Linked DNA regions of Homo sapiens. The protein of the gene in region 1 purifies or fractionates together with the protein of each later gene. This does not show direct contact. Each region holds a gene or a part of one and is shown on either strand. Other genes may lie near its edges. The genes, in order: KCNAB1 and ANKRD44.

Region 1 (4,383 bases):
GTTGCCTCCTTTGATACATGCTTCAGGCTGCACATTACTTGGTGGTTACAGTTCTAACCCTAGACTATCCTGGACAGTAATATCAAACAGGTTTCACCCAAATGTGCAAGAGCCCACATGGCTGTTAATTGGTTAATATTGATATTGGTTAATTAACAGCCATAGGGATCCTCAAAGACCTTTGGCAGGTCTTTGAGAGTGACAGTGGACTAAGGGCAAGTGAAAGGGGGCAAGGCGTACATTAAAGGAAGCAAGATAATCCAAGACAGCAGTAGATGACTTGTTACCAAGCCATGTGACCGAGGTGACCACATTAGTTCAGATAGTAAAGGGATGAGAATAGCAGTGAAGGAAATTCTTCCTCCATACCGTGGTGGCAGAGGAGGCCTTATGACAGCCTATTGACAGACTTTCCAAAAGAGCTAACTGCACTTTCCTATCTCTTTAAGAAGGCATGCTTCTTTCCTCCTTCCTCTCCTGCTCTTCTCAGGGACTCTAAGGACTTGCTATAACTCTACAATTTTTAACTTACGGTTTTGTCATGGAAAGAAAAATACATGCACCTTCCCAAGTTCTTTACATGCAGCAGGCACTGAGATAGTTGATCCAGAAGAGACTTAAGTTGATTGAGGGGGAGGGTGCCTGGTGCTTAACGGGTCACTAAACAACTCTGTGATAGACCCCTAGGTGGACACTGACATCATTATCTCCTAAACTAAAACAGAGTGAGATCCATGGGTGTGTGTGGGTCAACCCCATGCATCTTAACCATAGGGCCATCAGCTTGGCTTTCTTTGTTTCTCCCAAACTAGTTTTCATGTACACTGGGCACACACATACACATCCATGCACATACAGGCTCCCACCATTCCCTCCCACTCTTCTGTTTTTTCACACCAGTTTTGGCCTTCACCTTCCCAATTATCAGATGATTCTCATGGCTTCTATTTGTCAGAAGTGCTGGGAGGGGCAGTTACTGAATCGGTTATGAGGGATTACCATTCTCACATTAGGAATGAAAGAGTGCCTGACATACGTTATGTGGTTCACTGACATTCAAAGAAATATAAAATAAATTTAAAATGTTCAGGTTTGCACAAGAGAAATAATCTTTCCCTTGCATTGATACTGTTGAACTTATTTGAGGAAATTCACATTAAAACTTTTAAAACTCCAAAGGGACTCTAATCAGGAATGGCTAATGAGCCTCCAGAAATCTTTTATAACTCTAACATGATTATCGAATGTAATTTACCAAACCTATATGACCAAAAGTTCAGAGTTGTCACTATTAAATAAAGCAAAAGTCCTAACTTTGCGGAAGAAACAGCCACTGCCAAACTTCAGTATTACAAAGTTGTTGGGAGTTGTTTTTAAAATTTCCGTGTTCGAAGATACCACAGGTATTGGCCAGCTTACCTCTTCACTAGGAAAGGTTAGAGATACATTTTCATCCCAAGCCACAGACTGGGCTCAATTACAGCTTTGTGGCAGGATAAGGTTAAGAGAGGTGGAGTGGGCAGGGACGAGGGAGGGAGGCAGAAGCAGAAAAATCAATTCAGATTACTTTGATGACAGTGACTTCCAGTCTTCTCTGAAAGATCTCCACGATGCTGGCAGCCCGGACAGGGGCAGCGGGGAGTCAGATCTCAGAGGAGAACACCAAGTTAAGGAGACAGTCTGGGTTTTCTGTAGCAGGGAAAGACAAATCTCCCAAGAAAGCCTCAGAAAACGCTAAAGACAGCAGCCTTAGTCCCTCAGGGGAAAGCCAGCTCAGGGCGCGTCAACTGGCTCTGCTGCGCGAAGTGGAGATGAACTGGTACCTAAAGCTCTGCGACCTGTCCAGCGAGCACACCACCGTCTGCACCACAGGCATGCCGCACAGGTAAGCTGCCCCTGCTCTGCGCGGGCTTTGGGAGACGCCGTTCGAAGGTGCTCTGGAGAATGCTTTGATTTCTTTTCCTCTGCAGCTGGAAGTCTTAACGGCTCTAATTGCCTTAGAGATGATTGGCACTTCAGAATGTGTAACCACAAAGAGCAGGATCTTGGTGCAAATGGCAAATAATGTTCCCTGCATTGTTATTCAGAAAAGACCTCTTACAAGGAGGCAGTAGATGCTTAGGAGCTGACAGGACAAAAGAGCATTATGATTTTTCTTAAGTAAAAATCAGAGGAGTTAAGAGATGGTAGGAAAGTGCTCCCTTCCAAAATAACTACAAAAAAGAGTTTGCAATCTTTCAGCATTTCCTTTGCTCTGAGAACTTGGGGATGAGGGAAGAACATTTGTTTTGCCTGGTTGAAAAGTGGAGTTGAGTAGTGTGAACTTGTTGAATGAGGGGTCAGGCTGGCCATAGGGATGCAGAATGGGACATATTGACCACCAATATAGGGATCTGAGCCCCGTGTCTAAGACAGATAACATCAGGAGAAAAAGGTAACTTTTAAAAAAGAGATAAATGTAAGGCAAATCTCTATGGGTTTTCTTTCTGTTCTTTACTCAGCCTCAGCTTCAAATAAAGCAGAGGAAGGATAATTTCACAAATCCCAGTGTTCCAAGGCAAAACGTACTGAGTAAAAAGTGTCTGGAGTCCTGAAATTTAAGGATGCTTATTTTCTATAATTTGTGCAAAAAATCTCTTAGGAATTAAAGATAATTTTGGAAGAAAAAATACTGTGAAAATAATACCTAGAATAGCTATGTTATTAAATGGTAATAAAAATTCCTTTGAGATGAAAAATGGTTCCAATTACGTAGTCAAAGTATGGAAAACTCCTTTTGTAGAGACTGTATGGTAGCACTGAAATTCTGCAATGCAGCCTGTATCAAAGCATCCAGTGCACTCTGAGCTGCCTTTCTGTCTATATTTCTATTTCCAAAAGACACTACAGAAAAACTTATTTAGTAATTGAATTAACTTGTGCATATAGACTAAAAACTTGTACCGTACACTTTAAAACTCCTCAACTAACTTTCATTTTCTCTTTTTCAAGGCAGCAATAAATAGATATTTTAAAACCTAAACTATTATTCAAAAATCAACATTTAAAAATTAGCACAAAATAAAGCTTCTGGAAATGTTCTATGAAATACATTTGGTATTCATGGCCAGAGTGGTTTGTCTGAAGCTCTTGTATATGCTGTTGGGCCCACATTTGGGGTACATGGGAGGAAGACCAAAGGAAAAGTAGTCTCGTTTAAAGAAAGTTTGAATGAGCTTGTTAGTGTTACATATCTCATATTTCAAACTATTACATATCTCACATCTACAAATCTTAAAGCTATTATTAAAGATCCTCTAGGAAAAAGAGTTAAGTGGCAAAGGAAAGCATTGAAAATGGTTTTCTTCCGTAACATTTTCCTTGACTTGCGATATACCAGAAATTTCCTTTAAAGAGTCTAATACAAGACCACAGAATTCTTCATTATCTGACATTGGAACAACATTGAACAAGTCAGAGTGGCATATTAGTTAAGGTAACCAGGTTTAGCAAGAAACTTTTGGGGAAAAGCAAATATCTGCTCTTTTCTGCTTCACTTAAACAATAATATTTTGTTCTGTAATCAGAAAAGACTAGATTAGACATGATCCAGAATTAATGTCTCCTGTGATAATCTGTGGGGTAGTGTTATTAATCACTGATTGACAATAGCATGGTGTTTCCCTTGTTTAGTAAAAGGGTTGAAAAAGAGTGAAGATATGTCCACCTTACATGATCAAAAATTAAAAATTTCCCATCCTCCTTTATTATTGCAGCATGATTATTTCCAGGAAGAAACGAGTATGTGTAGTTGGAACTAACTCTATTTATAAATTAAATACATTTATTACAGAGTTCAATGTTTGCAATAGCTCAGGAAACTAAGGCAGTTTTTCTCATCGCCAGCAACTTTTTTACCTCTCAAATGTTGGAACTACATTCCTCTGTCGAGTCCTTGAGATTCCTGGACAGTGACAATGTCTGATGGTGCAATCTCTTCCAAATTTAATGTTAGCGATAGAATGTACGATCCCCCAAGTCACCCAAATTTTTCTTTCATTTGTAAATGTCAGCCGTTGAGAAGTCCCAGAAAATTTTCTTGGACTTCCAATTGTTCTTTCTTCCAATAACATGGCCCATGAGTGATATCTCCATTAGAAACTTGTATGTAGAAGATAAATATGATTAACTTATAAAATATTAACAAATTTATCCACCTGTGAAGCATTACTTACAAGACAGAATATGAAATGTATTGAAGAGTCCTTGAAGACATTACACATTTGCTATTGGAAATAATTCTGTGGGTCTTTGGTTAATGTTCATCAGTAAGGAATTGCTAGCGAACTCAAACTTGTTTCCTTTCTTGGAAGATGGAATTAAAATATTTTACATCAGGTTAAT
Region 2 (3,820 bases), on another chromosome or scaffold:
AATGGCAGAGACAAACAGCAGCAATGTCTACTCTTGAGCTGGAAAAGGCAGACTGCTGCCTTCTCTTTCTGCTGGTAGAACAGGAGCAGTGGTGAGGCTGGAACATCCTGTCCCCCAAGAAAGGAAAACCAAGTTGCATCATTATGGAAAACCATAATGAGGAAACCAGGCATCCAGGGCAGGTCTCAGAAAGCAATAGGGAGCCGTGGACGAAACACACCTCCTGACGGCACCACTGCTCTGCTACTAAAATGCAACCTGGTGAGGTGTCGGACTCCAGAGCAAAACAGAGAGTGGATTCTGACCCGCCTTCCATGTTTAGACTCCACAGCCACCTCCCCTGCCATCTCCGCAGCCACTTCCTCTGCCATCCCCCACCATTTCTTGAGGTTTTCTGTGCCCCAATCCTAGAGTGTGGGACTCTTTTCATTCTCCTCTGATTTACTTCTCTTTTGGTGTTTTGAAAGCAGCTTTGCCCTTCACCTTTTATTCCTTTGTTAGCTGAAAAATACCTCTCCCCAGGATGAAACTTCTCTGTCTCCAGTTCATTTTTTGCCACATTGACTTTTTGCTGATCTTTACCATGGGGTGACAAGCATTCCCAAGATGACCACACTGGGGCAAGAGTAAGCTCTGAACAATTATATTGGCGGATGGCTATTTCCTTTCTCTAGCCACAGCCGTTATGCTTTTTGTGGAAAATGGAGTAAACTGGCTCTAATGACTTTAATCACCCTGTGTTGGACTCTTTTGCAGATTGATGAAATCAATGTCTATGGAAATACAGCGCTTCACATCGCCTGCTACAATGGACAGGATGCTGTGGTTAACGAGTTGATTGACTACGGTGCTAACGTGAACCAGCCAAACAATAATGGGTTCACCCCTTTGCATTTTGCTGCTGCCTCCACTCATGGTGCTTTGTGTCTTGAATTGTTAGTAAACAACGGGGCAGATGTTAACATTCAGGTATGACACTCTTAGTCTCTGTGTTGAATGCCTTTGCATTGAGCTTCTGTTTGAGCAAAATCAACTGCTGCAAATTATGCCATGTTTTAGTGAGTTGGAACCTCACAGCCTTGTCCTGGATTTGGAGGCTATAAGAAAAGTTGTCTGGAGGCTGAGGCAGGTAGATCATGAGGTTAGGAGTTCAAGACCAGCCTGACGAAGATGGTGAAACACCATCTCTACTAAAAATGCAAAAATTAGCCAGGCGTGGTGGCGGGTGCCTGCAATCTCAGCTACTCGGGAGGCTGAGGCAGAGAATTGCTTAAACCCGGGAGACAGAGGTTGCAGTGAGCTGAGATTGTGCAACTGCACTCTAACCTGGGCAACAGAGCAAGACTCCGTCTCAAAAACAAAAAAAAAAAAGTTGTGTTATTTTTCTTCAGGAGTGGTGGTATCAGCTGAAAGGTACCAAGGCTCCAGCCGTGTGTTCTTGTTAGCTTAGTGAATGTGTCAGGACAAATACTGGATCTCTAGGATATTGACTTGCCCAGAAGCTAATACTGAGGTGAATGTTGAGCTGATAGGGCAGTGTTGCTAAGAATTCAAAGGAAGGCCTAATAATGATTGTAGGCCTGTTTCCAACTCCAGTGTGGGTTTAGAGCTTCTCAGATACCTTCTTTCTTTTCTTTCTTTTTTTTTTTGAGATGGAGTTTTGCTCTTGTCACCCAGGCTGGAATGCAATGGCGTGATCTCAGCTTACTGCAACCTCTGCCTCCCAGGTTCAAGCGATTCTCCTGCCTCAGCCTCCCCAGTAGCTGGGATTACAGACATGCACCACCATGCCCAGCTAATTTTTTGTATTATTAGTAGAGATGGTGTTTCACCATGTTGGCCAGGCTGGTCTCAAACTCTTGGCCTCAAGTGATCCACCTGCCTCAGCCTCCCAAAGTGCTGGGATTACAGGTGTGAGCCACTGTGCCCAGCCAATACCTTCTTAAAGCAAACCCCAGATAGTGGCTTCAGTGATGTAGCACTGAGCTGGTCATCACAATCATTCCTTTATTCAGCAAATTTACTAAGGACTACCCAGTGCCCTCTGTTTGGTACTGAAAGAGTGCTCTAAGATGAGATTCAGTCTCTGCCTTTAAGGAACTTACAGTGTAGTAGGGAGGTAGCATGCACTCAGGTAATCATGAGCAAGAGAAGATATGATGAGAAGAGTCATAAAGCATTGCAAACTCTAAGAAGCAATTGTTGACTTGTTTTTTGCTTGGGAATAAAAAATGGAGATCGATTTTGAGGGGAGACTTGGAAGATTAATGTAGTTGAGTTGAGGAGGGATAGAGATAATTTGAGAGAGAGTGTTCCAGATAGAACAGCATGAGCAAAGAGGGGTGGGAATTCTGGATAGGAAAACCTCTAGGTAACTTGTCAGCTTGCCATGTGACAGCTAACCAAGGGGAGCTTATCACGCAGCATTCATAATTTGGGCGACATCACTTGAATGCATTTAGATTGTAGCAGAATATCCTTAGCTGTGCTAGGAGACCTTTTATTCAACCCAGGCTTCCCTTCTTCCCAGCACACAGGGATCCTGAAGCAAGGTCCCAGTGTATTCTGTCTCTGGTTTTGAAAAATGATTTCTAAGGTGTAATTTCAAGAATATCACATCAGTCTATTTTAATAACCTTCTCTATTCACTATTAAAATCTTATATTTTTTCACAATTTCTAATAGTGGTGAAAGATGTGACAAATTTTCAGAATAGCAATTGATTGTATCAAATAGAGTATAATTTTATGAACATGCCAAGTGTGGTGGCTCGGCCTGTAATCCCAGCTCCTTGGGAGCCTGAGGTGTAGGATTCCTTGAGCCCAGGAGTTTAAGATCAGCCTGAGCAACCTAGTGAGATCCTGTCTGTAAAAAGCTTTTTTATTTTTAATTGTATGACAGAAAGGAGCCAGAAATGAGCTGAAATGTGATTTGACCAAGGAAGAGGACTCATCTACTGGATGATTTTGAGCCCAAGGAGCTTGGGCCTCTCCAGGCTCTGCAGGCCACGAATCATTCTAGGGGTCATATGATCAGACCTGAGCATTAAAAACAGTAATCCGGTCACAGAACACCAAAGGCAGGAAAAAAAAAGGAAAATAATCATATATATGACTACAAAAAAGTCTTAAACATTTATAAAACAAAACAACAACAATAAAACCTCTAACATGAAATTAAAATAAGAGCAACTTAGGGAAAATTTTCTTCAATATACATGATAAGCAAATAGTTAATATGCTTGATATAAAAAGAGCTCATACAAATCAATAAGAAAAAGTGATCATTACTAGAAAACATGGAGCAAAAGTCAGATCACAAGAGAGAATAAAAAATACATTAAGCCTGTGAAAAACTAGTATTACTGGTAATTAGAAAAATACAAACTAATACAAAAACGTACATTTGTGTTAAAGAACGGCAAATATCAAAATGGCTAATAACACCTAGTATTATCAATGAAAACATTGAAATGCAATAAAGAAATATGATCTCTTTTTTAATGCTAAAATGTTATGGTTATGTGTGTAGATGATGCAAAAACAGAGAAAATTCTCTGGAGTATGTACCAATATGCTAGCAACAATTATCACTGCAGAGAGACAAAATTATGATTTAGGTTTTTCTTTCTTTCTTTCTTTCTTTCTTTCTTTCTTTCTTTCTCTCTCTCTCTCTCTCTCTCTCTTTCTTTCTCTCTTTCTTTTGTTTTTGAGATAGAATGTTGCTCTTGTCATTCAGGCTAGAGTGCAATGGCAGGATCTTGGCTCACTGCAACTTCTGCCTCCTGAGTTCAAGTGATTCTCCTGCCTCAGCCTCCCGA

What was found.
Region 2: the proteins of KCNAB1 (region 1) and ANKRD44 purify together in Homo sapiens (co-immunoprecipitation; one large-scale study listed by IntAct). This does not show direct contact.

Annotation. Positions count from the first base shown.
Region 1 is NC_000003.12:156,119,002-156,123,384, forward strand, and holds the start of KCNAB1 (voltage-gated potassium channel subunit beta-1), read left to right. Parts: upstream 1-1,576; 5' UTR 1,577-1,610; coding exon 1,611-1,885; intron 1,886-4,383. UniProt on the Homo sapiens protein: Regulatory subunit of the voltage-gated potassium (Kv) Shaker channels composed of pore-forming and potassium-conducting alpha subunits and of regulatory beta subunits.
Region 2 is NC_000002.12:197,118,481-197,122,300, reverse strand, and holds part of ANKRD44 (serine/threonine-protein phosphatase 6 regulatory ankyrin repeat subunit B), read left to right. Parts: intron 1-756; coding exon 757-969; intron 970-3,820. UniProt on the Homo sapiens protein: Putative regulatory subunit of protein phosphatase 6 (PP6) that may be involved in the recognition of phosphoprotein substrates.